4 linked regions of the Homo sapiens genome follow. The protein of the gene in region 4 purifies or fractionates together with the protein of the main gene of each other region. This does not show direct contact. Each region holds a gene or a part of one and is shown on either strand. Other genes may lie near its edges. The genes, in order: FBLN1, LIMA1, NOTCH2 and ZFP41.

Region 1 (7,024 bases), on a different chromosome or scaffold from region 4:
GGAAGGCAGAGGTGGGAGGATCGCTTGAGCCCAGGAGTTCAAGCTTGCAGTGGGCCACGACTGCACCACTACACTCCAGCCTGGGGGACAGGGGGAGACCCTGTCTCAAAACAAAAAAACTAAAAACAAAAGAACACCCTGAGGATCACAGCTCCCCCGTGTGTCCTGTGAGGGTGGGGCGATGGGAGTGGGGAAGGGCCTGGGGTCCAGCCCCACCCTGGCTGTGCCTCCCGCATCCCTGCAGGGACTTCCAGCTGCTCATTTGCCTGGGGATCCGGTCACCTGTGGATATCCAAACACCAGGTGTCCTGAGCTTCGCTGCCCCATCACACAGGCTGGGGACCATCTGAGGCCCACAGAGGCACCTCCCACCTCACTGTCCTATCCACCTGCTCATCAAGTCCTACCCCATGTGTTGCCTTCTCAGTGCCTGCCCAGGACTCTCGGCCAGGCTGGGGTGGGGGCAAAAAGGGGACTGGGGCTAACAGATCCCCCACGCCAACTCCACGCCTCATAGGTACCAAGAGTTCTGCGGGGGTCAACAGCATCCAACCAACTGCCTGATCAGTCAGGCCCCCCACCTTCAGAAGGGTGTCAAATCAAGGCCATTTGTACACAAACCCTAGGGCAGCTGAGCAGCCCTGGAACACTGTGAGTCAGGAGGATAATGTGGGCCAACCGAAGCCACGCCTGCTTCTTCCATCCCAGACCGCCAACAGCTGTGAGCAGCTCTGAGATCCAAAAATTACCTCTGACCAGTACCACACTGGACACCCACCCAAGCAGAACAGGCACTCGCTGGTAACTCGACACTGGGCTGTGGGGGATCAAGAGAGAAGCAGGGCCTCAGGGGACCTGGAATCTTCTCTCCCAGATCATTTCCTGTTGTTTCGGAGGAGTTTCAATCAACCAGTCTCAATCTGACCCCTGCATCTGACCATGTGAGTTAGATCCAAAGCATAATATTAGATATAAACCAAGAGCAAACTCTTGCAAAATCTCGTTAACCTTCAACTCGAATGTTCCCAGGGAAGGCAACGCTGCGGGTTAAAACTGCTCAGCCTTGAATCCAGCTCCCTCCCTTACTAAGACTCAAGGAGGCTCACTTCCTTCATCTGTAAAAATGGGGGAAGAGGCCGGGAGCAGTGGCTCATGGGTGTAATCTCAGCACTTTGGGAGGCTGAAGTGGGCAGACATCACTTCAGTCCAGGAGTTCGAGACCAGCCTGGCCAACATGGTAAAACCCAGTCTCCACTAAAAATACAAAAATTAGCTGGGCATGGTGGCGGGCACCTGAAATCCCAGCTACTCAGGAGGCTGAGGTGAGAGAATCACTTGAACCCGGGAGGCAGAGGTTGCAGTGAGCCAAGATCGTGCCACTGTACTCCATCCTGGGTGACAGAGTGAGACTGTCTAAAAAAAAAAAAAAAGCCAGGCATGGTGGCTCATGCCTGTAATCCCAGCACTTTGAGAGGCCGAGGCAGGTGGATCACCTGAGGTTGGGAGTTTGAGACCAGCCTGACCAACATGGAGAAAGCCCGTCTCTACTAAAAATACAAAATTAACCAGGCATGGTGACGTATGCCTGTAATCCCAGCTACTCGGGAGGCTGAGGCAGGAGAATCACTTGAACCCAGGAGGCAGAGGTTGCAGTGAGCTGAGATCATGCCATTGCACTCTAGCCTGGGCAACAAGAGCGAAACTCTGTCTCAAAAAAAAAAAAAATGGGGGAAGATTGATGAGATAATCCAGGAAAAGTGCTTACATTAGCACACTGACCACAGGAAAAAACAGAAGCTTCAAAATTAAACAAAAGGAAAAGTTATCACACCAGGATTGGGAGAACATTCTTTTTCAAAGGAACCACACACTCCTCCAGGCTGACACGGTGCCCGATGGCCAACACGCCACCACATCCACCACCTCTCTTCAGGAGAGACACATGCCTGCCGGAGTAACTGGTGCAGATGGATGGAGCTGGCTCAGTTCACAGGCCTCAGATACCGTTTGTTGCCTGGGACAGCTGCTAAAACTAAATTTTTTCCAGGTGAGTTAAACCTCCATAAAGATTATGGTGTAGATCAGCGGCATGCCCCATGTTCCAAGGCATGCAGAGAAACACAGGTCACATGGCCTGCGGGGACCATGCCCTGGACACCCAGGAAGGATATGGCCACGTGCTCTTTCTAAGACTACAGATGCTCAGAGAGATTCTGTACCACTCCTTGGGTGGAAGCTTCCAGAATGTCAGCCTGCTAGCTGTAAACATCGCAGAAGCTTTGGGCAATGCCTGATCCCATCCCCAGCAGCCTGTGAGCCACGAGGATCTTAATTCCCAGGTTGCTGAGCAAGCAGACTGTCACAGAGGGGAGACTGGGGGCTGGGAACCGGGAGGCCTGGAGTCTGCTTCTGATCTCATGGTTGAGAGTTTTCCCACCCGGAGCAAGTCCGGGCCTCAGTTTTTTCATTTATAAACTGAATGGAGGATTTGGCCTGCAGTTAAGAGCAGGCTTCCCCAATCCCACCCTGTGTAAGGGCATTGCTCTGGCAAAATTTCCACTGGGTTGCAACAAAATAGGGTGAAAGCAAAGCAGGATCCAGGGACCTCTACAAAGCCGGCCCGATTCCATCTACAATACTGTCTTTTATTGTGAGACCGCGTCCTTCCAAAATCCGGGGCATTAAAATGTCCCCTACCTCTGTGAAGTGGTGACGATATGAGATGGTGGTTGAATGGGTGTCTGTTTTTTATTTTAATATCCTCATCGGGCAAATGAGGATATTTTAAGTTGGCAAAGCTCCGTGAATAGCTGGGGATGAAGTAAAGGCATGTGATCAGAAGCCAGCCTCAATTTCCTTGATTTCCTCTGCTCAAGCTCAAAAACTCAGAGGCAGCTGAGGGCGTCAGGAGTTTTTAAAAGTGAATGGGAGCTTGAGGCTTCATCCTGTGTGCCTCCCGGACTCACCACACAAAAGGATCATGCCCCCACCCCACCTGCCCCACAGCATTGTCTAAAGCTACAGCAAAGAGTTGGAGTGGCCTCCGTGGTGTCCAGAACCAAGGAACCGAAAAGCCTGAAATGCAACAAGATGTCAACCACAGAGACCCTGATGGAAAGTTCCAACCAAACAGGACTGGGCGACTCCACCCAACCCCCACCTGCACCCTGCCCCTCCTGAGTAGCTGGGATTACAGGCGCCTACCACCACGCCTGGCTAATTTTTTGTATTTTTAGTAGAGACGGAGTTTTACTATGTTGTCTGGGAAGCCACCAGGGGTCCAGCCAGATTGGCCTATGTCCCTGCATCCCTTACAGTTCCAGGATGAGGACAGACTCGTGTCCCCTCTTCAAGACCACCTGGCCTCTGCAGGAGGAAGCAGGGCGAACTGGAGCCTGCTCTTAGGGCTCCTGGCCCCATCCCCAACACAAGACCTGACTGTGTCCACTGCTGAGCCTGTTCCCAGCATCTGTCATGGAGATGACAGGGGTCTTGGATGGTGAACCAGCCGGGAGGAGGCAGCAAGAGAGAAGGAGCAGAAGGTACCTCTCTGGGAAGGCGAGAAGCATTCTCCCCACAGTTCCCTCCAGGCAGCTCTGGCCCCGGCAGCAACTTCCTACATCAGCCCAGTGCACAGAGGGGCATCCTCATCCTTCTGCAACATCCCACCCTGCTCCAAGGGCCTCCTGGGCTTCCAGGACGCATCTCCCCTGGTGTTCCTCTCACCCCTCTGGCCACCTGTCATGCATCCTCTGCACCTGGCATTTGGAACCTGGAGCTTCAAAGGCTGGAGGGTCCCAGGACGCTTGCTCTCCTCAGGCCAGCTTGTTCATGCCACACCAGCTCAAAGGTCCCTTCCTCCAGGAAGTCCTCCCTAACTACCGCCAATGCACACACATATGCACATATACACGCATGCACATGGGACAAATATGTTTTCTTTCTTGCATGGTCTCTTTGTACTCTGAGCTTCCCAGCACTTAGCACAAATAATTAACTCTGTACTTAGTGCCATGAGTCTGAGCCAGACACTGTCTCATTCTGCCTCCTGCCCCCATGCCTGCCCTAAGCAGTCATTCAATAAATGTCCGTGAATGAATGAACGCACAAATGATCTCACATGATCCTAGGTATTCTATAAAGTGGGGGCAAAGAGAGAATCACCAAGTTGCCCGAGGCCATGCAGCCTCTGCAGAGGCAGGCTTCAGATCCAGCTCTGACTGTAAAGCTCATACACACCCCACCATCACACTCCAAAGGAAACAGGCATCCCCCCCTGAACTAGACTTAAAGATTCAAGTCTTCTAAAGGTGCGTGAGGCTGGCTGGGCGCGGTGGCTCACGCCTGTAATTCCAGCACTTTGGGAGGCCAAGGTGAGCAGATCACGAGGTCAGGAGTTAGAGACCACTCTGGCCAACATAGTGAAACCCCGTCTCTACTAAGAATACAAAAAATTAGCCAGGCGTGGTGGCGGGCACCTGTAATCCCAGCTACTTGGGAGGCTGAGGCAGGAGGATTGCTTGAACCTGGGAGGCAGAGGTTGCAGTGAGCCAAGATCACACCCCAGACAGTGCAAGACTCCGTCTCAAAAAAAAAGATACGCGAGGCTGTCCAGTGTGCTGGTGAGGGGTATGACGTCAGGGCCAAGCTGCCCAAGCTCAAGTCCTGCTGCTGTCACTTAGCAGCTATGCACCCACAGTCTTGCTACCTGGACTCTCTGGGCCTCCATGTCCCCTCATTGATGAGGGGGACAATGACAGCACCTCCTTTGCAGGGCTAGGGTGAGGGTATAGCTAGGTAACACAGGTGAACTGGGGCAGGGGTGGGGCAGGAAGGTGCTCGAGTCCCCGTGCTGTGGGGAGACCATGCTGGGTGCACAGGTGTTGGATTTCCATCCTCAACCTATCACACGCATCAGTGACTCTCAGAAATGGCACTGTGCAGGTCCATAGAGGAGTTCTAGGCCAAAACAAGAAGCCGGGCTTCATACCTAGGTAGCAAAACTCACAGGACCTTTTCACTCCAGTGGGTAACAGGATCCAAAATGAAAAACAGGGCCAGGCGCAGTGGCTCACGCCTGTAATCCCAACACTTTGGGAGGCCGAGACAGGTGGATCACTTGAGGTCAGGAGTTCAAGACCAGTCTGGCCAACATGGTGAAACTACATCTCTACTAAAAATACAAAAATTAGCCAGGTGTGGTGGCGCATGCCTGTAGTCGCAGCTACTCAGGAGACTGAGGCAGGAGAATGGTTTGAATACAGGAGGTGGAGGTTACAGTGAGCCGAGATCACACTACTGCCCTCCAGCCTGGCCGGCAGAGTGAGACCCCGTCTCAAAAATAATAATAAAAAATAAAAATAGGTTCAAAACAACACTGGATCACCTATTTCGTAGGGCTGCTGAGATGACGACATTGGTTACTAAATGTAAAGCATTTCACCTATAATAATTACCCAGAGGACACTCACATCTTATAGTGAAGGAAACAGAGGCAGAGAGTTTGTGGGTGTCATCAAGATCTCTCCAGACACTTTCAGAATTGGGACCAACACACAGCTTCCTAACCCCCTTCTCATGTTGGCTCCGCACAGTGTAGTAACCCGCAAATAACCTGTAGGAAGCTATGGCGACTGGTGCCTCGCTCCCTCCCACCCCAGCCTCTAGTTAGGACCACTGTGGGGTTAAAGGAGGTGGGGCCCAGCCCAGCTCTAGGCCCAGCCCCAGCCCCGCTCCTCGCTGGGTGACTTGTGGCAGATGACTTAGCCAGTCCTGAGCTCCCCTCCAGCCTGAGGGGGTCTCCTATCCCAGGGAAGTTGACACAGTGGTTCCCCCCTCCCACCCTGTTTACTTATAGGGCCACATGTGAGATCATCACAAGGAAACTGGAACCATATGGGGCCTACGAAAGGATTCATTCATCAAATTGTTATGATTTGCTATTCTGCAAAAGGAAAATCTTGTTGTATAAAATATGCTGGCAAAATAACTACATGCCCTCTTAGAACTGTTCTAATAAACTTCACCTGGAAGGCGGCCCTGACCAGGTGCCCAGTGCTCAGAGCCCGGGCTTAAAGTCTCACCAGGTCAGGGAAGCTGCTGGAGAAGTCTCTAGACAGCACAGTCTCCCCCAGTGGTGAGGAGGGGGTGGAACTGGAAGGAACTGGAAGTGGGTAGAAGGAGGGGGTTTCCCTGGAAGTCTCGTGTTTTCTCTTCCTTCCAGGTATTTGGCCCTGCCATTTCCCCTGCCAGGAACACCCTTTCCCCCATCCTCCCAGCCCTACCCACAGACTTAGCCACTGCCTTTTCCTCCTTAGGTTCCCAGTTTGCATGCCGCTTCCTCCGGGAAGTCTTCCCTGACTCTGCCAGTAGGGCTCAGTTCATTTTTCTGGATCTCCTAGTTGCATGAGGGGGAAAAACTGGGTCTCTCTCCTTTCCTGCCACATCCACAAGTTATAGAGCAGTGTCTGGCACTGAGCTGTCCCTTAGTGAATGAATGACTGAATGGCTAAGAACACCACCTTTCCTGACACGGGTTTGGCACTGACGACTACCAGTCCTATAGCCCCATGGGGCCTTCTGCTCAGCGCCTGGCTGGGAAATTCAGTAGTAGTAGAATGTGCAGAGGCATCTTGGGGAAAACAATTCTGGGGTATTGGCAGAATTGCGCTCTTCCCGCGCTCCCCTCACATCAAGCCTCATCTCCTCCAAGGAGCCGCCAGGGAGCCCCCAAGGGCTGCGAAGGCTCCTGGTGCCAACACTTCCTAGAGAAGGGGACAACAGGAATAATAGCTAACATTAATAACAGGGCTGCCAGCCGGCACGGTGGCTCACACCTGTAATTCCAGCACTTTGGGAGGCCGAGGTAGGTGGATCACCTGAGGTCAGGAGTTCGAGACTAGCCTGGCCAAGATGGTGAAACCCCATCTCTACTAAAAGTACAAAAATTAGCTGGGCGTGATGGGCGCCTGCAATCCCAGCTGCTGGGGAGGCTGAAGCAGGAGAATCGCTTCAACTCGGGAGG
Region 2 (7,024 bases), on a different chromosome or scaffold from region 4:
GTTCCAGCGATTCTCCTGCCTCAGCCTCCCAAGTAGCTGGGATTACAGGTGCCTGCCACCATGCTGGCTAATTTTTGTATTTTTAGTAGAGATGGGGTTTCACCACGTTAGCCAAGCTGGTCTTGAACTCCTGACCTCAGGCAATCTGCCCACCTCGGCCTCCCAAAGTGCTGGGATTACAGGTGTGAGCCATCACACCCAGCTGAATATCAAAATTTTCATGCTTACTGAGCACGTCACCTTCTTGTGATCTCTCCCTTTTCCTTATCTACTATTCTACTTCTTTAGGAAAACAGTACATCGTAAGGATTAAAGATTAAGTAGAAGATCTACTGTATGACTCCTTCATATGAAATTTCCAAAATAGGCAGATACATAAAGACAGGAAGTAGCTAAGTGGTTGCCAGGGGATGAGAGCAGGGGAAGTTGGGAGTGACTACACAGGTATGAAGTTTCTTTTCAGGGTGATGGAAAGGTTCTGGAATTAAACAGTGGTAATGGTTGTACAACCTTGTGAATATGCTAAGTATCACAAGATTGTATACTTTAAAATGGTGATTTTATATTATGTGAGTTATATCTCAGTAAAAAATCACAAAAAAAACCCTCGTTAATGAACACAGCTGATATTTCTCTCCAGTCTTCTTCTTTCTTCCCTCAAAAGCCAAAATAAGCTCTTCAGTCTTCTTCCTTCTTCCCTCAACAACCAAGATAAAATAAGAGTTATATTAAAACTAATAAAATACTACTTCTTTAACAACACAAAGATTAAGTAGAAGAGCCAGGGAAACTCTCAATGATACTCACTGGTAACATCACAAAAAAAGTGAGTGGGGTGGGAACCAGGACTAAGAAAGCAAAGTCAGGATTAGACCATGGTAAGAACTGCAAATCCAGCGAGGGTAGGGTTCATGTGAAAAGAGAACAGCTAGGGGACCAGGGCTCAGATACAAGGGTCTGGTGACATTTCCTAATTCCAGTACTCAGTGACCATCTGCTGGATGATGGAATGAATGAATGAATGAATGATGCAGAACACATACTGTATAGTTGGTTGAGCTGCTTTGTTTGGACACAGCTGCCTGGTACTTGGCCATTCGATCCTTTATAGAGGTTTCTGAGAGGCGTGGAAGTTCCAGATTTCGTCTACTCTCATTTTTCTCCGAGTCAAATGTAGAAGATGACAACTGACCTGGAAGCATCCAAATAACATGTTTTATTTTATTTCTGAGATGGGGTCTCACTCTATCACCCAGGCTGAAGTGCAGTGGCACGATCATAGCTCACTACAGCCTCGAACTCCTGAGCTCAAGATATCCTCCCGCCTCAGCCTCCCAAAGCGCTGGAATTATAGGTGTAAACCACCGTGACTGGCCAACATGTTTTATTAGAAGATAAAAGTGATTCAAATAATTTCAAAATTCTAAATTTTGGGTTATTTTTATCTAATGGCCAATATCTTCTGTTAAAAGCACGAAGAAGAAAATCAGGAATATAATTGTCATTTATAAAGTAATATTCACTCACTTTCTTAGCATTAAAAGAACCTTACCATAATTGAGGATTGCATATTTTATTTTTTGAGACAGGGTCTCACTCTGTCACCCAGGCTAGAGTATGGGGCAGTGGTACAATCATAGCTCACTGCAGCTTTGAAGTCTTGGGCTCAAATGATCCAACCACCTCAGTTTCCCAAGTAGCAGTGACTTCAAGGATGCACCACCACGCTGGGCTTTTTTTTTTTTTTTCTGTAGAGATAGGTCTATGTTGCCCAGGCTGGTCTCAAACTCCTGGATTTAAGTGGTCCTCCTGTCTCAGCCTCCCTAAGTGCTGAGATTATAGGTCTGAGCCACCATGCCTGGGCTCGTATTTTAAAATTCTGGCTAATTTAACATGAAAAAGAAGAGATCTCAATGCTTTTTAATTTACATTTCTTTGATGACTAGGTAGCTGATGTTTTCCTGTTTTTACTAATTTTTTCTTTTGTGAAGTGCCTGTATATGTCCCCTTTAAAACATAATTCCACTCTCAAAGTGTTATGTTATCACTGGTAATACAGGGTAACCAAACCTGATAGGGGACACAGCCCATCTACTGAAGCCCTCAAACCCCAGATGACTGGAGGCAAAACTGATCGTAGCACTTTACTTATAGCTCCTCAAAGTACCCTTTGCTTACCATAGGTTACCACTAACAAGGGTGGATTAAAAATATGAAAAAAGCAGCCGGGCATGACGGCTCATGCCTGTAATCCCAGCACTTTGGGAGCACGTCAACTTCCGTCTCAAAAAAAAAAAAAAAAAAAAAGCTATTTATCGAGAGCAATGAGATTTGAGAATGGCTTGCATCTAATAGGCAGACTTCCTTTTAATTTGTGCCACTCTTCCTTTAAAAGCATTGGCTTCGAGTCCAAAAGATGTTACTACTAGTGAGTACTTCCTAAAGGACCTCATACACATGGAACTCTCTGCTTACCTGGGCCTATTTCCAGGTCATCTAGAGAATAGCTGTTTTCAGAGATCTTCCTTCCACTTGCACTTCGGCTTTGGGCCCGGAGAATCTGGAAAACGAAACCCAACGATAAGTTTTGCAGAAACAATGGGAAATCTTGACGCAAGGTTCAACTTGCAAACCTTCTTTATAAATAAAATCCAGATTTGATTTTATATTTTATATTCTATAGAATTTTTTTTAAATTACAAATATCAAGCACTACACATTCACAGGTGCCCAGGGAAAAATAAGTAACCCTATATAGGTAATATTCTCTGCTAAAGATGGCTTCCTAACCAGCAAGCTTTGTAACACTTATTGGAGGGGAATCCTCACATACCAGATGACAATGACATGTCCTTCTAAACTGCCAAGTGCTGATGCAGAATCTGCTGTTTCCTTTCTCCGTCTCATGTTATTTCTGCTATTGCTGCCTTAGTTCATGTCTTCATCATCTTTCCCCTGGACTACTGCATTATACCTCTTTAACTGGTTCTTCATTATCTTCCAATCCAGTCTCTATGATGCTACCATTATCCCCAATAATACAAAGTAATTATCCAAAAATATAAATCTATTTTACCCTCCTTTTCAAAATTCTTTCAGCATTCCTACTCATTCCTGAAATTAAACTCGAAGTGCTTAGTAAGTCACAGAAGTCCTGTTCTAGATCTGGTCCCTACCGAGCCAGCCTCCTTTGTCCTTCTGTTGCCTTACAAATGCCTGTTCCTTCAAAGACTCAGTGTAAGCACTATGAAGTCTGAGTACCTTGCCAACATAAATTTAGGTAATCTTTCCTCTGTTCTCAAGGTACCTGGTCAAACTGTTGGGTGACTGTCCCTCTACTGCACTGTAAGCTCACTAAGGGCAGAGACCATGCCTTTTTGTCCATATATTTCCAGGACTTACAGAAAAGTGGATGACACAGATTTTTTTTTTTTGAGACAGAGTCTCACTCCGTCACCCAGGCTGGAGTATAGTGATGTGATCTTGGCTCACTGCAGCCTCCGCCTCCCAGGTTCAAGTGATTCTCCTGCCTCAGCCTCCTGAGTAGCTGGGATTACAGGCGCCTGCCACCATGCTCAGCTAATTTTTATATTTTTAGTAGAGACAGGGTTTCACCATGTTGGCCAGGCTGGTCTCGAACTCCTGACCTCAGGTGATCCGCCCACCTCGGCCTCCCAAAGTGCTGTGATTACAAGCTTGAGCCACTGCGCCTGGCCAACAAAGATTTTTTTTAATGAAGTGTTTTGTGATTCCATTAAATTACTACATTTATCTCTGTCATATCTAAGGTAGATCTTTAATGAAAGTTACAAATTATAATTTTTAAGACTGTAGTGTCAAAGAATATTCCCAGACATAGTACACAGGGAGTATGTCATGTTTATTCAGCTTATAATGAGATCCTTACATCAGATCCTATCATTCAAATCTCAGTTTATTTCCAGACAACTTGAGGTTAAAAAAGATATCTGAAATCCAGTATGACAGGAGATAAGAATAAAACACTTAGCACCCTTTTGAATTTAACATTAGTAAATAGTTACTAAATCTTTAAGTTCAATGGACTAATCAACTTTACTGTAAAGTTTGAGGAAGTGAGACTGGGCATGGTGGCTCACACCTGTAAAACCACCATTTTGGGAGGCCAAGGCGGGCAGATTGCTGGAGCTCAGGAATTTGAGACCAGACTGGGCAACATGGTGAGACCCTGTCTCTACTAAAAATACAAAAAATTAGCCAGGTGTGGTGACATGCACCTGCGGTCCCAGCTACTTGGGAGGCTGAGGTGGGAGGATTGCTTGAACCAGGGGGGCAGAGGTTGCAGGGAGCAGAGATCGCTCCACTGCACTCCAGCCTGAGAAACAGAGTGAGACCCTGTCTCAAAAAAAAAAAAAAAGAAAAGAAAGTGAACTATCACTTTTACATATTTTTTATACCCCCTCCTTGGAGACAGAAAACATACCACATCAGAAATCAGAGCCAAGGATTGGTCTGTTTATACCACACCAGTAAGAATAGTTTCTTTCAAATTCAATATATATTTAATATATCTCCCAAGGCTAGGCACAGTGGCTCAAGCTTATAATCCTAGCACTTTGGGAGGCTGAGACAGGTGGATCACTTGAGCCCAGGAGTTTGAGACCAGCTTGGGCAGCATGGCAAAACCTTGTCTCTACAAAAAAGATACAAAAGTTAGACTGGGCACGGTGGCTCACGCCTGTAATCCCAGCACTTTGGGAGGCCGAGGCAGAAGGATCACGAGGTCAGGAGTTCGAGACCAGCCTGACCAACATGGTGAAACCCCGTCTCTACTAAAAATGCAAAAAAATTAGCCAGGCGTGGTGGCCCGCACCTGTAATCCCAGCTACTCAGGAGGCTGAAGCAGGAGAATCGCTTGAACCCAGGAGGCGGAGGTTGCAGTGAGCAGAGATCAGGCCACTGCACTCCAGCCTGGGTGACAAAGCAAGACTCCGTCTCAAAAAAAACCAAAAGTTAGCTGGGCATTATGGCATGCGCCTGTAGTCCCAGGTACTCAGAAGGCTGCAGTAGGAAAATTGCTTGAGCCTGGGAGGTGTATGTTGCAGTGAGCCAAGATCATGCCACTGCACTCCAGCCTGGGCAACAGAGTGTGACCCTGTCTCAAAAGAAATAATAAAAATAAAAATATATTATATACATATTACATATGTGTGTGTGTGTATATATAATTTGTCTCCTTGCTGGGTTTGGTGGTTCATGCCTGTAATCCCAACACTTTGGGAGGCTGAGCCAGGAGGATCCTTTGAGCCTAGGAGTTCAAGACTAGCCTGGGCAACATAGGAAGACTCCATCTCTACAAAAAAGAATACAGTGAGCCGTGACCGCACTACTGCATTCCAGCCTGGGTGATGAGTAAGACCCTGCTCAAAAAGTAATAATAATAATTTATATCCAGTCAGCTTTGCAATTTATATTGTTGATTTAAGTCTATTTTTTCTTTCTTTCTTTTTTTTTTTTTTTTACAGTAGAGACAGGGTCTCACCACGTTGCCCAGGCTGGTCTCAAACTCTTGGGCTCAAGGAGCCTCGGCCTCCCAAGGTGCTGGGATTACAGGTGTGGGCCACTGCATCCGGCCTGATTGGGTCTATTTTTAATAAAAACTAAAACAAGCTGGAACAACACTATCCGTGCTACATCACACACAGGTCAGGCATACTTTCATGAATTATTATACATCCATATGACTCACACAGCTCAACATACTCTTGCTCTAGGAGCAGCCGCTATCTGAAAATGAAGTGGTTGGGTGCGGTGGCTCACACCTGTAATCCCAGCACTTTGGGAGGCCAAGGTGGGTGGATCTCTTGAGGTCAAGAGTTCGAGGCCAGCCTGGCCAACATTGTGAAACCCTGTCTCTACTAAATATACAAAAATTAGCTGGGGTGGCGGTGCGCACCTGTAATCTCAGCTACTCAGGAGGCTGAGGTTGAGAATCACTTGAACTTCAGAGATGGAGGTTGCAGTGAGCAGAAATTGTGCCACTGCTCTCCAGGCTAGGTGACAGAGCGAGACTCCATCTCAAAAAAAAAAAAAAAAAAAAGAAAAAAGATAATGAAGATCTTGGTCAAAAGGAAAAGATATGTCTGGCAGGATACCCTCAATCCACATTTTTAATTTTTATTTATTTATTTATTTTGAGACAGAGTCTTACTCTGTCACCCAGGCTGGAATACAGTGGTGTGATCTCAGCTCACTGCAACCCCCACCTCCTAAGCTCACACAATTCTCCTGTCTCAGCCTCCAGAGTAGCTGGGATTACAGGCGTCTGCTACCACACCTAATTATTTGAGTTTTTGGTAGAGTTGGGGTTTCACCATGTTGGTCAAGCTGGTCTGAAACTCCTGACCTCAAATGATCTGCCCTCCTTGGCCTCCCAAAGTGCTGGGATGACAGGCGTAAGCCACCGCGCCTGGCCCACCTTTTTATTTTGTTTTCAACATACTTCTTATTTGCTGATCATTAAAATAAAGAAAATTCCACATATTTATTCCAAATGCTGCTGCACTGGAAGATAACCACTACAAAAATTAGAATTTTCAAAACTCAAAATGGGAGAAAGCCTACTGATAAACTTCTTTTGAAAAACCAAAAGGGGCCGGGTGCAGTGGCTCACACCTGTAATCCTAGCACTTTGGGAGGCCGAGGCAGGTGGATCACTTGAGGTCAGGAGTTTGAGACCAGCCTCGCCCACATGGCGAAACCCCATCTCTACTAAAAATACAAAAATTAGCTGAGCATGGTGGCACGTGCCTGTAATCCTAGCTACTGGGGAGGCTGAGGCAGGAGAATCGCTTGAACCAGGGAGGTGGAGGTTGCAGTGGGCCAAGATTACTGCACTCCAGCCTGGGCAACAGAGCAAGACCCCATTTCCAAAAAAAAAAAAAAAAAGAAAAAAAGAAAAGAACAACCAAAAGGAAACGGGTTCTGTGTTCTTAATACAGATATTTGCTTTCTGTCAAAGTTCAAGCACAATTCCAAGAATATG
Region 3 (7,024 bases), on a different chromosome or scaffold from region 4:
CTTGCAGTGACTACTTCTGCCTTTTAAAACCTTTTTTATTTTTTATTTTCTGAGGCCGGCACTGTGAAACCTTCGTCGATGTGTGTCCCCAGATGCCCTGCCTGAATGGAGGGACTTGTGCTGTGGCCAGTAACATGCCTGATGGTTTCATTTGCCGTTGTCCCCCGGTAAGTGCCCTGTTGCTCATCTAAGAAGGGGCATTGTCTCTTCCATACAATCTGTGAACAGAACTGAGATTAAACCTGGTTTTACCAATCTTCGAAATGGGAAGATTTCTCAATTTTAGCTCTTTCAGAGGAAAGTGCTTGGGTTTTTCCATTTAAAGCTGTTTACAAGTGACAAAACAAAACAAAAACAAATAAAAGCTGTTTAGACACTCCCAGAAACAGTGAGCTTCCCAATCCATGACTGTCAGTCTTAAGAAAAACTAAGGGAAAACCACAAAAAGTGGTGGAGTGCCCCCTTGAAAATAGGGCTGATGTGTGGGGCTTCTTGGCCCCAGGCTGGAGGGTAATCTCACTGCCCAGATTGGGCCAGAGTTGGTGGAAATGCTGCTCTTACATTCTTTAGCAGGAACCATTTGGAAGCAAGTTGTCTCTTAAAGTAGAGGGAAGCTCAATTTTAGCTATTTGCTATACCCATTCTTTTATCACTGCCAGAGGTTGAAACCTTCCCAAAACAAGAGATCCCTATGCCTCGGGAGATACCAAAAGGAAACCTGTCTAGTAACCTTGGCTTGGGCTGAACGGGAAGTACAGAAGGGAGTGAGATGTGGAGGTTTTCTAGAAACCTCAAACTTCCAATATGACTGTTTTCCTACCAATGCCATTTTTATTTCCTCACTGATTTCCACAGGGATTTTCCGGGGCAAGGTGCCAGAGCAGCTGTGGACAAGTGAAATGTAGGAAGGGGGAGCAGTGTGTGCACACCGCCTCTGGACCCCGCTGCTTCTGCCCCAGTCCCCGGGACTGCGAGTCAGGCTGTGCCAGTAGCCCCTGCCAGCACGGGGGCAGCTGCCACCCTCAGCGCCAGCCTCCTTATTACTCCTGCCAGTGTGCCCCACCATTCTCGGGTAGCCGCTGTGAACTCTACACGGCACCCCCCAGCACCCCTCCTGCCACCTGTCTGAGCCAGTATTGTGCCGACAAAGCTCGGGATGGCGTCTGTGATGAGGCCTGCAACAGCCATGCCTGCCAGTGGGATGGGGGTGACTGTTCTCTCACCATGGAGAACCCCTGGGCCAACTGCTCCTCCCCACTTCCCTGCTGGGATTATATCAACAACCAGTGTGATGAGCTGTGCAACACGGTCGAGTGCCTGTTTGACAACTTTGAATGCCAGGGGAACAGCAAGACATGCAAGTAAGGGCTTCACGTTTTCCAGAACTGAAGGGGACTGTCACTAACACACTTCAGTTTCTCGTTCTTGCTCCTAACCACTCCAGTGCTTCAGCCTAAGCTGCCTCTGCTTTTCAGATGGTGCCAGCCTTGTCCCATCGCACACTGCCCTGTGCTCTCCCTTGCTGACAATGGGCCAGGAATGCTCATTGCATAATGACCCTCTCTCTCTGCCTATCTTTGCCTTCTCACCTGCTGCCTTCGTGACCTCCTGGGGGATATAACTTTTGGAAGTGGTGTTTCCCACTTCAAGCAGCCTCTCACATAACCTGCCTGCAGGATGGATGGAAAGGTCTGTATCTCTCTCTTCACCCCATTCCTTTCCCTAAGACTGTTTTTCCCCATCTAGATTTATCAGGAAGCATGAATTAGATTAAGTCTGTGAACCCTCCCGGTCTTAATTGTATAGGATGCTCTATGGTTTACTTAGGAACTTTCCTATTAACTAGCCATTCCATATAATTTAATCCCAATTAATTCTCAGCAACTCACGAGGCATAGGTATTACTAACATTCTTTCATAGGTGAGAGAACTTAGGCCCAAGGGTTAAAGAACTTGCCAAAGCAAGTTGTTTCTTTGACTCCTAATCTTCTGATTGAGCTAGCATGAAAAGTTGTACCAAATAGTATAAATATCAAGGGGTAGGGGATGAGGAGAGGAGAGTATAGATGGAATAGTTTGTACATCATTTAGGTTTGGGGGTTCTAATTCCTTTTCCAAATATTGAAAGAGCCTGTACAAGTAATATCTGGTGTGCTATAAGGACATACCCATCTGCCTTTACCTTCTGTAGTTGGGATTCACTCTTGAAAGGGAAAGAAATGGGTCATGTTAATATTGTTCTCTGTATGGCAACTCTCAATGGTTCAGGGCCTTGTATCAAGTTTCTAGAGGCATCTTTCACTTCCTAAAGCCCGTTGTTACCTTACTGGGGGCAATGGATTTCTCTAAAGTAGAGGAAGCATGAACCAGGTTGACTTTTGTTTCAGATATGCAGCTTTGTTTGAAAACCTGACTTAACAGGCTTGTAAACTGCCTGGGAGCCCCTAAGCTCCTGCAGCATAGTGAGTACAATGTTCTTCATTTAGGAAGTACTCAACAAGGATGAGTGGCATAGGCATCAGGGATAGGAGATGCAAAGAAGGTTTTGTGGGGCATTTGGGTCCTGGGTGTGGGCCACAGAAAATGGGTAGGAAAATCCACAGTAGTTCCAAATGAAAAAGCAAATAGAGCTCCAGTCTAATCTGAGCTCTTTTGCCTGTTCTCTGCTTCCCCTTACCTAGGTATGACAAATACTGTGCAGACCACTTCAAAGACAACCACTGTGACCAGGGGTGCAACAGTGAGGAGTGTGGTTGGGATGGGCTGGACTGTGCTGCTGACCAACCTGAGAACCTGGCAGAAGGTACCCTGGTTATTGTGGTATTGATGCCACCTGAACAACTGCTCCAGGATGCTCGCAGCTTCTTGCGGGCACTGGGTACCCTGCTCCACACCAACCTGCGCATTAAGCGGGACTCCCAGGGGGAACTCATGGTGTACCCCTATTATGGTGAGAAGTCAGCTGCTATGAAGAAACAGAGGATGACACGCAGATCCCTTCCTGGTGAACAAGAACAGGAGGTGGCTGGGTAGGTGTTTGGTTTCTGAACTTCAAGGCTAATTTTATGAAGCCTAGCACTTTGACATATAGCACAAGTCATAACTCAACCTATAGAAATGCAAAGATCAGAAAAATAGAATGGCCCACCACTTAAGATAAACCCGTTACCCCAGTACTTACGTTTAAATGTAAAGATATGCCTTCGTCTTGGCTGAAAAGTGGGCAGGGGTACACAGGAGGCAGAATGTCTGGAAGGCCTCCTCAGATGCCAGAATCCATAACCTTTTGCCAGAGTTGCCTCAAATCCCTTTATTAGTGACATTCCTTTTTACATTAATCATTGCCTTATTGTTAAGGCCCTTCTTTAGAATATATGTCTCTTTGACACAGGTAATGATCTTCAGTTGCTCTGTCATTCACACCTCACTCTTTGTTGGTATATTGTCAAACTTTCAACCCTCCAGCTAGCTGAGATACCAATGCAGAGACAAAGGAAAATAAGGACTAAAAACACACAGGGATGTATGTTTAGAGTAGCACCAAGTACCACTGAGTAGGTATGAAAGAGTGGAAGAAGACCACTGAAACCTTCGGGAGGAAAGCACAGCTTCTCACTTTGTCATGCATTGCCTCAGCCAGAAGGCTTTGGTCAGCCAGACTAAGGAAGGTGGGACATCCTCTATGTGGGAATTAGTGTTTAAGATCTCAAGGGACAGTATTCTAATTCCTGAGATATGTCTTAAGGCAGCATCCCAGAGGTGGGGACCTGATGCTGAAGGGGAGGAAGGGAGGCTCCTGTCACCCTTTATGACATGTTCTGCCTGACCTGCACTCTTCTGTTTTACCCCCATCTCTCCTCCTCCGCTTCTCCCTTGGCATCCCACAGCTCTAAAGTCTTTCTGGAAATTGACAACCGCCAGTGTGTTCAAGACTCAGACCACTGCTTCAAGAACACGGATGCAGCAGCAGCTCTCCTGGCCTCTCACGCCATACAGGGGACCCTGTCATACCCTCTTGTGTCTGTCGTCAGTGAGTGGCACTGGTGTAAAGGGGAAAGGTGGCGGGGGAAGAGTGTCAATTGGGGGAACAATTTTCATTATGTAGCCCTCTATTTTTTCAGGACTGTTGAGGTCAAAGTTGCCCTCTAAATGAATCTAATGCTGACATTGAGAGGTTAATGTTTTATTCAGCACTTTCCCTGTCTCTGTGGACTTTCAGGTGAATCCCTGACTCCAGAACGCACTCAGCTCCTCTATCTCCTTGCTGTTGCTGTTGTCATCATTCTGTTTATTATTCTGCTGGGGGTAATCATGGCAAAACGAAAGCGTAAGCATGGCTCTCTCTGGCTGCCTGAAGGTTTCACTCTTCGCCGAGATGCAAGCAATCACAAGCGTCGTGAGCCAGTGGGACAGGATGCTGTGGGGCTGAAGTAAGAGGCATTGCCAATAAGCCACTATTCACAGTATAAGTAGGGATGACTAGAAAAGCATATCTTGTTGAATCATGATTTTAAATTCTAAGCTCTGGGCATTTACTCACATTGACCATGATTCTAAATGCCTTGTGAGTGACTGAAACCACAGTCAGAGCGTGGGTGCATCTATTCTGTGTATATTATCACAATGCCGCCCAGCTTCTGTGTTGAGGTGCCCTTTTGTTGTAAGCTCACGATCAATGGGAAGGGAAAGGATGAATGCCAAGGGAATGTCACCAAAAATACTGCCCATCTTCTCTGGGCCAAGACCCTGCAAAATTGTAATATAGCCACGGGAGTGTGTCATGGTGGAAAGTGTTGAAAACCACTGTATTAGTTTATGACTGCCATTCTTATTTTTTCTTTTTATAATCATATTAGAAATCTCTCAGTGCAAGTCTCAGAAGCTAACCTAATTGGTACTGGAACAAGTGAACACTGGGTCGATGATGAAGGGCCCCAGCCAAAGAAAGTAAAGGTGAGGTGGCCATGGTAGAACCACCATTGTCAGCCATTATCTGGTTACATTTCAAATTTCTGTCCTTTAGCTCCAGAGTGTCCTGAATGGGAGTAAAGAGTGATAGTCTTGATGTCTTACCCAGACAATAACTATCCTAGGTTCTCCTAAACAGCAGGAATCCTTAGGACGTAAATGACCTTGGGTTACCTATATATGCTCTTCAAGAATAACTCTTTAAAAATACTAAGCACATCTGTTTCCTTTAGTGTTATGCTGGCAGTAGTCAAGTCAGGAATGGTGTGTGTAGATGGCAATTCCTTCATGGCCACATCTCTTCCTTATCCTTTATGGGCACTTCTTCTATAAGAGAAGATGAAATTAAGCAGTGGAAGAAAGCCAGTTATCATTGACATTGGCAAAATGAAAGCCAGTGATCATGGCAAAACGTTGACATTGGAGGCTCCATACCTTGAGCCCAGGAAACTAAAGCCATATAAAAGCAAGTGGTAGATTGGGCTGAGACTGACATGAAAAAGCAGACCATCCATCCACAGCTGTGCATGGCTGGGAGCTGGTGGAGCATGATGGTTAAGAAGATTGCTTTAGTTAATATCAGAACTGGATTCAAATCCAAAACTCTGCCGCTTAGTAGCTGGCAAGTTACTTAACCTCTTTGTAATTATCCTTCCTTGTAAAATGCGGATAATAATAACCCTTTCCTCTGTGAGTTGTTGTGTTGGCATATGTGCCTTATCTACTTTCCTGTCATGTACTAGGTATTCAGTAAAGGGTAGCTGCTTTTAAATTATCATGATTATTATTATTGAATAGTCTTTCCTGAGTGCTTACTACATGTTGGGTGCTATGTTGAGTACAAGGAAACAACCTTGAACAAGGCTTATTTTCCCTTCTTGAGAAGCTTACAGCCTTGTGGTGGAGATGGCCATGTAGTGCTGTGTAAGCATTTAACACATGATCAGTTAAGCAGAGGTAAGCAGAGTATGCTTTTTAGGGCCAACAAGAAGAATTAAAGTTTACTTTCTAGTGGAGGGTAGGAAAAGTGAGAATTGGGTGCTCTGGAGATCTAAAGGCTAAAGCCTAGAGTTTGGGATTGGGGGAGGGAGTTGTCTAGATGATGCAGGAAAGGTAAGCAGGAGCCACATCACGAGAGCAGTGGGAAGCCAAGGCTGAGGTAATCCTCTGGAGGGGTGGAGGAGTAGGAAGAGAGAAAACAATGGGAGATAAGCAGCGGTGGTGGAGGCTCTGGACACCTTCTGATTAGCAGTTTCTGGTGGTGGCCAGATTGATAGGGAGCATTGTTTTCACCTTTCAGGCTGAAGATGAGGCCTTACTCTCAGAAGAAGATGACCCCATTGATCGACGGCCATGGACACAGCAGCACCTTGAAGCTGCAGACATCCGTAGGACACCATCGCTGGCTCTCACCCCTCCTCAGGCAGAGCAGGAGGTGGATGTGTTAGATGTGAATGTCCGTGGCCCAGGTCAGCACCGGGCCTCTTCCCCTCTTCACTGGGCTGTGTCTGCCCATGGTTCCACATTGTTGTCCCTGTGTTTGCCCTGTCCAGTCATAAACCCCTTCCCAATTTCACAGACTCTAAATCAGCTCGAGGAAATGAATGCTTAAGGAATGTAGCCACAAAGAAATTATCAGCTCAGAAAGGGAAGGATTTCACATTGCTTCATGTACAGTGTGTTGAGACTAAACAGGCTGATAAAATGGGTTAGATTGTAGTGGGATAGAAAAATAATATCCCAAAGCAGAGGATAGTTAGTATCTTATGCATGTATTAATTGTTCTATTAATATTAGATATTTTTAAATGTCCAATTAAAATAACAGCACTTAAACTTGAACAGAAAAACGTGTTTAGAGAAGAGCCCCCAGCTTAAAAAGACTTGTACTTTCCCATTATTCTTTACAGAAATGATACTATCAGAGGAAAAGGTGGCAAATGTGAAACTAATAACCAGTTACTACAAGAAGTACAGGGAATTCTTTGCCCCTAAGAATAACTTTAGTCAAATAGAGCTGTTTCAACCATAGGGTTAACTACCTTCTCCTTCTTGAG
Region 4 (7,047 bases):
AAAAATCAGGGCTTCCAGGCAGAAACATCAAATAACTTTCAGGAGCATGAGAATTAGATGGGCCTGAAACTCCTCAAAATCAATAAAAATGAACATAGCAACAACGAAGCAGCATTTTCAAAAATCTCAAGAAAAGGGAGAAAACAACGAACTGTGCAGCCATTCAAGCTTTCCTTCAAGGAATTACAGCTTCAAGAGAGCAGTTTTAAACTTGCCAGAGCTCAGGGGTCCTGCAACTATAGGCCCATCAGGAGGAACCTCCTAGATGGGCTTCCTCCAACCACAAGCTGCTTACGGGTCAGCCGTAAGACCCACGGGGGTGATACATTGAATGGTAGACCCAACATAGAAAGAGAAGTGCAGTCGAGAGGGGAAGAACCATATGTGCTGTGTGTGTTCTGACAAAGTTGAAATGGCATGACTTCAAAAAAAACACCAGGAAGAGGAGGAGGAGTGGGAGGAGGAGAAGGGGGGGAGGAGGAGGGGGAGGGGGAGGGGGATGAGGGGGAGGGGAGGAGGGGGAGGGGGAGGAAGAAAAGGGAAAAGCTCCCGGGTGGTTGTGCAGGCAGTAGGGAAAAGTGAAAGGGCACCATTCAATCCAACAGGCCAGACAGTAAACCACTCAGGAGGAAAGCAGTTCTCTGTCCCTCTCTAAGCTAAGAGACCGAAGTGTTTGTCTCCTGTCCTCAGTCCTCTTCTCTGGTGGCTGTCCCCTGCAGAGCAGACTGGGACCCCACTCACTAGCAATAGGACTCCCACATCGGAACATAGGACTGTGACCCAGAGGTGCCCAGGCAGCCATGAGAGGCAGCCCGCCACCCAGAACAAGAGGCCTGGGCTTCCGGGCAGCTCCAGCCTTTGCAGCACGCAGGCAGGGCACAAAACAGGGATGTGCGAGAGAAATGAGGAGCAGAGACATGGCAGAGCCTGGGGCCCCCAGCCCCTCTTCAGAGAGGCTGCCTCTGTGGGAAGCTCTGCAGGAAAGGGGTCCTCAGCCCTTGGAGCTTCTTTCCATATTTACAGGGTAGCTGGAGCGGGGGGGTCTGGTGACAATGGGAGATTCCGGGCCAGGGAAACAGCCTCTGCCCACATATCACATACCAATGGTGTTGGCACCAAATGGAGTCTCTGGTGGGCCGGCCCAGCCACCACCACGCCTGAAGGGACTGGAGGGGCCACCTGGCTCATTTAGAAGGCAAGGGGCTGTCTCTTTTGAGATAGGGGAAGGACACCTTTCTCCTTCTTCTGCTTTTGTTTTTTGTTTGTTTGCTTTTGTTTTTTTTTTTGAGATGGAGTCTCGCTTTGTCACCCAAGCTGAAGTGCAGTGGCATGATTTCAGCATCACTGCAACCTCTGCCTCCCAGGTTTAAGCAATTCTTTTGCCTCAGCCTCCCAGGTAGCCAGAACTACAGGCACGTACCACCACACCCGGCTAATTTTTGTATTTTTAGTAGAGACAGGTTTTCACCATGTTGGCCAGGCTGGTCTCGAAGTCCTGACCTCAAGCAATCCACCCACCTTGACCTCCCAAAGTGCTGGGGTTACAGGCATGAGCCACTGCGCCCACCCTGCCATTCTTATTCTCAGTCTTATTCTCTCTGTCCCAGCCCCATCAGTCATCAATTGCTCAATAAATATGGATTAGGCACCTGCTATGGGCTATGTGTTGGCCCCCGATAATACAAAGATGAAAAAGACAAGCCCTGACCGAGGGTCATGTGCAGCATGTAACCTGTATGGACAGCTACCCACGCAGCCTTGGCCTAAGGCTGGCAGGGGCGAGGCCGGGGCTGGCACAGAGGAGCTCGAACAGGTGGAGTCTTAAAAAGCAGGAAAGGGTCTGTCAGGCGGAGGCGGAGCGGGGGTGTTCAAGGCCCAGGGTTGAGGCATGCAGCCGATGCTGTGTGGCAGGGCAAGCACTTGCTGCTGAGTCTCCTGGAAGGGGAAAGGGTGGTGAGAGGGGCGGCCTGCAAGTCTGTGCAGGCCCCTTTGCAGCTGCTAAGGGGGCCCAGACCTCATCCTGCAGGACAGGCGTGAAGCTGGGAGGGCCACTGTGGGTTTGCCCGGTAAGTCAGTCCCTCCAGCTGCTGTAGGAGGGGTGGACAGGGGAGCCCAAATGAAGGCAGGGAGACCCCAGGGCAGGGCACAGAAGTAATGCTGGTGAGAGGAGATGGGGTTGCAGCCGGGACAGAGGAAGCAGGCTGGACAAGAGTGGGTGGTTTAAAACATTGGGAGGTAAAAGCAACAGGATGGGAGAGGGGGGTGGGACGAGGAGGGAGCAGAACTGCCTGGTTTTCAACACCTTGCTAAGTCCAGGAGGCAGTTGGAGAGAGGGCTGGGTGGGGGCAGGCAGTTCCTAGGGTGCCACGACACCAGCAGCACCTAAGATCTCCACTCATGCTCACTCAGTCCACACGACACGAGGGCCCAGCACACATCAGGCACCCAGAACAAGAACAGGTGGCTGCCCTCCAAGAGCTGATTTGCATGGGAGTGTGGGAGCGGGGGATAATTAATAATAAATATAATAAGGAAATCATATAGAAAGTGGAAATGGGAAGTGTTGGGGGGGCAGAATGCTGCAGATATCCTAAGGAGATGTGCCAGAGCCAGCCCAATGCCCATCCTTCCCTTGGCTACAGGCGGCACTTGTGACTTGAATCTGAGTAGAACTGGGCCGAGGGGGTGGCATGTCACCCACAATTAGGTTCTGTTCCACAGGACTCCATCTGGGGGTGGGGCTCTCCCACGGACCCTGGGGAAGCGGCCACCCTGTGAACCGCCCACCCTCCCACAGTAGGGACTGGCAGGCAGCCCCCGGGAGCTGAGAGCAGCTCCTGCCGGCCCTCAGTCCTACAGGCACCAGGACATGACTTCTGCCAGCAATCGCATGAGGTGGGAAGTGATCCTTCCCCAGTCCAGCCCCCAGATGAGAACACAGCGGCTGACCAGAGCTGAGGACCCAGCTAAGCCTGGCCTTCTGGCCCACAGAAGCCTTGAGATAATAGGCGGATGTCGTTTTAGGACACCCAATTTGCGGTACGTAGGGAACTAACACGCGGGGCTCTGGCGGGCCTGGCGGCTCAGTGCGATCTGGGCAGGCAGGAAGTGGAGTGAGCACAGCCAGCGGCTGGGAGCACATCCCGGAGGGGCTGCCTGCGGCGGGAGGAGCGGCAGGGGCCACGTGGTGGGGGACGGCTCGCCAGGGCGCGCACGCGGTGGCGGCGGCGGTGGAGGCGTTGCCCGCCTAGCTAGGGGCCCGCGGCCTGGAGAGGCGTCGGTTCTCCTTCCGCGCTGAAGGCGGAGACAGCGACTTCCCGTGGAGGCAAGCCGTGGGCGCCGCGGAGGCGGGGGCTGGGGGTCGGCGGAGGCGGGAGCTGGGGGTCGGCGGGGGCTGGGGGTTGGCGGGGAGCGTCCTCAGGGACAAGTCTCCCAGCACGCGGCCGCGACCTCCCCGTTGGGGGTCTGGAGCCAGGAGCCCACGCGCGTCGGATCCGGAGAGTCTGGTGGGCGCAGCCTACGTGACAGGGTCGGCTCGGGACCGAGCTGCTGGGGACTGGGCCTTGCGGGGCGGGGCCGCTGGGGGCGGGGCATGAGGGTGCCGGTTCGGGGCGGGGCTTTTTGGGGGCGGGACATGGGGCGGAGCCTGGGGGCGGAGCATGTGGGGAGGTGGCTGGGGAGGAACTTTCGGGGGCGGGACACGAGGGCGGAGCCTGAGGGGGCGGGGCATGAGGGGAAGCCGGCTCGGGAAGGAGCTTTCGGAGGCGGGGCCCGCTCGGGGAGGGACCTGATTTCGGGGGAGCCTTCGGGAGGGCGCCTGCCATAGACGACTGTAAAGGGGCGGGGTCAGCTCGGGGAGGACCCTGCGGGCGTGGCGGCAGTTATGGGTGAAGCCTGAGGGGGCGGGGCCTGATCGGGGCGGGGTCTTCGGGGGCGGAGTCGGCTGGGGATGGAGCCGCTCGGGCCGAGCCCTCCACCGCCCACCATCACCGAGTCCGGCCCAGGCTCCTAGCGCGGCCGCCGGAAGGGGCGGGTCAGCGGGCGGGCATTTCCTGCCGGTGCCTAGGGCCGACGGGGACGCTGGCACTGGTGGGGAGCTGTTGGGGGGTCCCGCATCTAGGGCTCTCCTTTCCTGCCTCCGGCCCCCGCGAGGGGCGCGCGCCTCTCCCCGCCCTCCAGCAGTCCTGGTAGGGCCCGGGCGCGTCCGCGCTCTGCAGCGGGAGGTCCTCGTCGCCTCTCGTCTCCAGCCAGGTACTCACTGGGCTCCTGCCTGCCGCCTCCGGCCCAGGACGCGCAGCGTCGGTATGGGCCCCGCCGCCTCCCCGCACCCCGGCGCTCCAGGGATGTGGCAAGACCCGGCTTTGAGCACCTCCCGGGCGCCGGCCCCGAGGCCGACCTAGCTCTGCACGTGGGCCGCGGGGCTCTGCCGTTGAAAGGAGAGCCTCTAACTAGGAGCACGCACGGGACCCTGGCGGGCCCCTCCGCCTGGCTCAGATGCCTGGCATCTCAGGCCTTGGCACAGCTAGCAGGCCCCTGGCAGGCCGTGGACCCAGCAGGCTGTTTTAGTGCAGATTGCCCCTGAATCTCAAGCCCACTAATGTTCCAGTCTCTCCATGAGACCCAGATCCCTGAAAGTAGTGGAGGGAGGCGCCAGGGTGAGTGAGGTTTTCTAGGCAGCCCTTACCGCCCACGGATACCCAGAGCTTCATATTACAAGTGAAGGGTCCTCCGCCCAGAGAGGCGACGGAGCTACGCTGGAGTTGCACGACAGAACCAGAACCCCAGTCTTTAGGGGTGTGGCAAGCGTGGGTTGCGCTGTTTGTAACTAGCTAATCACTCCTGTCTACAGGCCTGTGAGGTGAGGCCAAGAAAATCGCTATGGTCCAATCCGTTTTTGTTTTTTGCGTGTGGGGTTTTTTGTTTTGGTTTGGTTTGGTTTTTTTGTTTGAGACGGAGTCTTGTTCTGTCGCCAGGCAGGAGTGCACTGGCGCGACCTTTGCTCACTGCAACTTCTATCTCCTGGGTTCAGGCAATTCCCCTCCCTCAGCCTCCTGAGTAGCTAGGACTACAGGCACGTGCCACCACGCCCAGCTAATTTTTTGTGTTTTGGTAGGGACAGGGTTTCACCATGTTGGCCAGGATGGTCTCGATCTCCTGACCTCGTGATCCGCCCACCTCGGCCTCCCAAAGTGCTGGGATTACAGGCATGAGCCACCGCGCCCGGCCAGTCCACTCTGCTTTTAAGAAATATTTTATTTCTCAGGGTGGGCAGCGTGTAGAGAAGTGAGTCATTCCAGTCTCTGCCGGTTAGCACCTGCCAGCCTAAGTTGAGTCGACAGAGCCGTTATGGAGAATGTTCCCTGACCACAGTATGTGACTAGGATTTGGAGATAAAAAAGATACGATCCTCGCCTTCAGGAGACCCTGTCGCATAAGGAGACTGCCATGTCAGTGACCAGCCACACGTGCAGTGACAAGTGTCTGGAAGAAGGAACAGTGCTGTACAGCATGGAGGACCCCCACACAGGCCTCGGGCAGCAGCCGTTAGGCTCAGTGGGTTCACAAACCACCCCCCGCCCCGCCGTGGAGTGGAGTCTGCAGAGAGCCAGATAGGTTCCCGCCATGCCCTGGAGAGCTGCCGTTTCTCCAGCTCCGCCCTGCCCATGAGGCAAACAGCTGGTCGACTGGTCTTCTGTGCTGGTTCTTGGTTCTCACCTTTGTTTCCTACCAGAGCTGGACCCCGGCCTCAAACTCCAGCCAGCTTGGGCTGTGATCCTCTATCCTGGGCACCAGGGCCCACCCCCTGCCCACCCCAGCAGAGATGCTGCTTTATGCCTGCATCCTCCCTCAGCACACGTGGCCTTCATCTTCAGTTCTGGCGCCCACCTGATCTGCCTCCTCCCACACGCCACCTCTAGATAGAGCCCTAGAAAGTGATGTTGGCCTGAAACTGAGTCACATTCATCTAAACATTTTCCTGTAGAAAAGACCAGACCCTCCTTGTTGAGATAGGAAATCTGTAGTGAGTTTATGTGTTACCTGCACTCATGAGGGAGAGGAGGGAAGGCCACCAACCTCCTCTCAACAAAGAGAATTCAAAGTATTTATGTGTTGAGTTGTGTCACTTACGACATGCATATCAGCTCCACTTTCTACCTAGGGTCAACCCTGGCCTCAAACTCCAGCCTGGTTGACCAAGAACTAATACAAAGGGTACGGAATATTATTTCTTAGAATATGACTGGGCATGGTGGCTCCCACCTGTAGTCCCAGCTACTCAGGAAGCTGAGGTGGGAAGGATGTGACATGAGGGGTTCTGCTGGCTGCTGTGGTCCATGGCAGGGGGGCAGCCCTGGTTTCATGAACTCAGAACCCAGCCTCTGGGGGATGGAAGCACTCTCCACTGGGCACGTGTGGTCCCTGCAGCCTGTAGCTTCAAAGCACGGTGACTGGTTCCAAGCCCAGTATGGTGGAGAAGGAGACTACGGCAGGAACCAGGGGGATTCGGGGGTGGAGGAGGGAAGCCGCAGGGCAGTTGGTGGGTACATCAGATCCTGTGGACATGGTGTGCAGACCCGGAACCCCGGCAGAGGAGCAAGGATTCCTTGGTGAGCAACTGATCCCTTCATCGAGACAAGGAAAGGCCGGGAGAGAGTCAGGTGGGGCTCCGGGGAGATCAGCAATGCCGTTTGAGACACTCTTGGGGGAACACATGGGAAGGGAGGGGCCGCACCTGAATCCCACATCCCCTGAAAGGCAAACCTTTAATCTGAGGTTCATGTTCTTGCTTCTCCCCAGCACCAAGAGGATGGTGGCCCTTGGCCTCCTGGTGCAGAGCATCAGTCCCACGCTGGGAGTGTGGAGAGGTGCGTGGGAAGCAAGCCATTGAGGAAGTGGGGCCAACAGAGAGGTCAGCAGCCCCTTAGCCCTCACGCTTCCAAGGAACAGAATGATGGAGAAGCCTGCAGGCAGAAAAAAGAAGACGCCGACCCCAAGGGAGGAGGCAGACGTGCAGAAGAGTGCGCTCAGAGAGGAGAAGGTGTCCGG

The links.
Region 1: the proteins of ZFP41 (region 4) and FBLN1 purify together in Homo sapiens (affinity purification with mass spectrometry; 3 studies listed by BioGRID and IntAct, with this or other methods). This does not show direct contact.
Region 2: the proteins of ZFP41 (region 4) and LIMA1 purify together in Homo sapiens (affinity purification with mass spectrometry; 3 studies listed by BioGRID and IntAct, with this or other methods). This does not show direct contact.
Region 3: the proteins of ZFP41 (region 4) and NOTCH2 purify together in Homo sapiens (affinity purification with mass spectrometry; 3 studies listed by BioGRID and IntAct, with this or other methods). This does not show direct contact.

Annotation. Positions count from the first base shown.
Region 1 is NC_000022.11:45,505,859-45,512,882, reverse strand, and holds part of FBLN1 (fibulin-1 isoform D precursor), read right to left. Parts: intron 1-7,024. UniProt on the Homo sapiens protein: Incorporated into fibronectin-containing matrix fibers. May play a role in cell adhesion and migration along protein fibers within the extracellular matrix (ECM).
Region 2 is NC_000012.12:50,203,509-50,210,532, forward strand, and holds part of LIMA1 (LIM domain and actin-binding protein 1), read right to left. Parts: intron 2,561-7,024; coding exon 2,476-2,560; intron 1,193-2,475; coding exon 1,044-1,192; intron 1-1,043. UniProt on the Homo sapiens protein: Actin-binding protein involved in actin cytoskeleton regulation and dynamics. Increases the number and size of actin stress fibers and inhibits membrane ruffling. Inhibits actin filament depolymerization.
Region 3 is NC_000001.11:119,919,642-119,926,665, reverse strand, and holds part of NOTCH2 (neurogenic locus notch homolog protein 2 isoform 1 preproprotein), read left to right. Parts: intron 1-54; coding exon 55-167; intron 168-855; coding exon 856-1,361; intron 1,362-2,681; coding exon 2,682-3,029; intron 3,030-3,887; coding exon 3,888-4,030; intron 4,031-4,219; coding exon 4,220-4,430; intron 4,431-4,856; coding exon 4,857-4,953; intron 4,954-6,268; coding exon 6,269-6,437; intron 6,438-7,024. UniProt on the Homo sapiens protein: Functions as a receptor for membrane-bound ligands Jagged-1 (JAG1), Jagged-2 (JAG2) and Delta-1 (DLL1) to regulate cell-fate determination.
Region 4 is NC_000008.11:143,242,892-143,249,938, forward strand, and holds the start of ZFP41 (zinc finger protein 41 homolog), read left to right. Parts: upstream 1-4,047; 5' UTR 4,048-4,251; exon of another isoform or gene 4,252-4,858; intron 4,859-6,798; 5' UTR 6,799-6,952; coding exon 6,953-7,047. UniProt on the Homo sapiens protein: A putative DNA-binding regulatory protein associated with meiosis in spermatogenesis.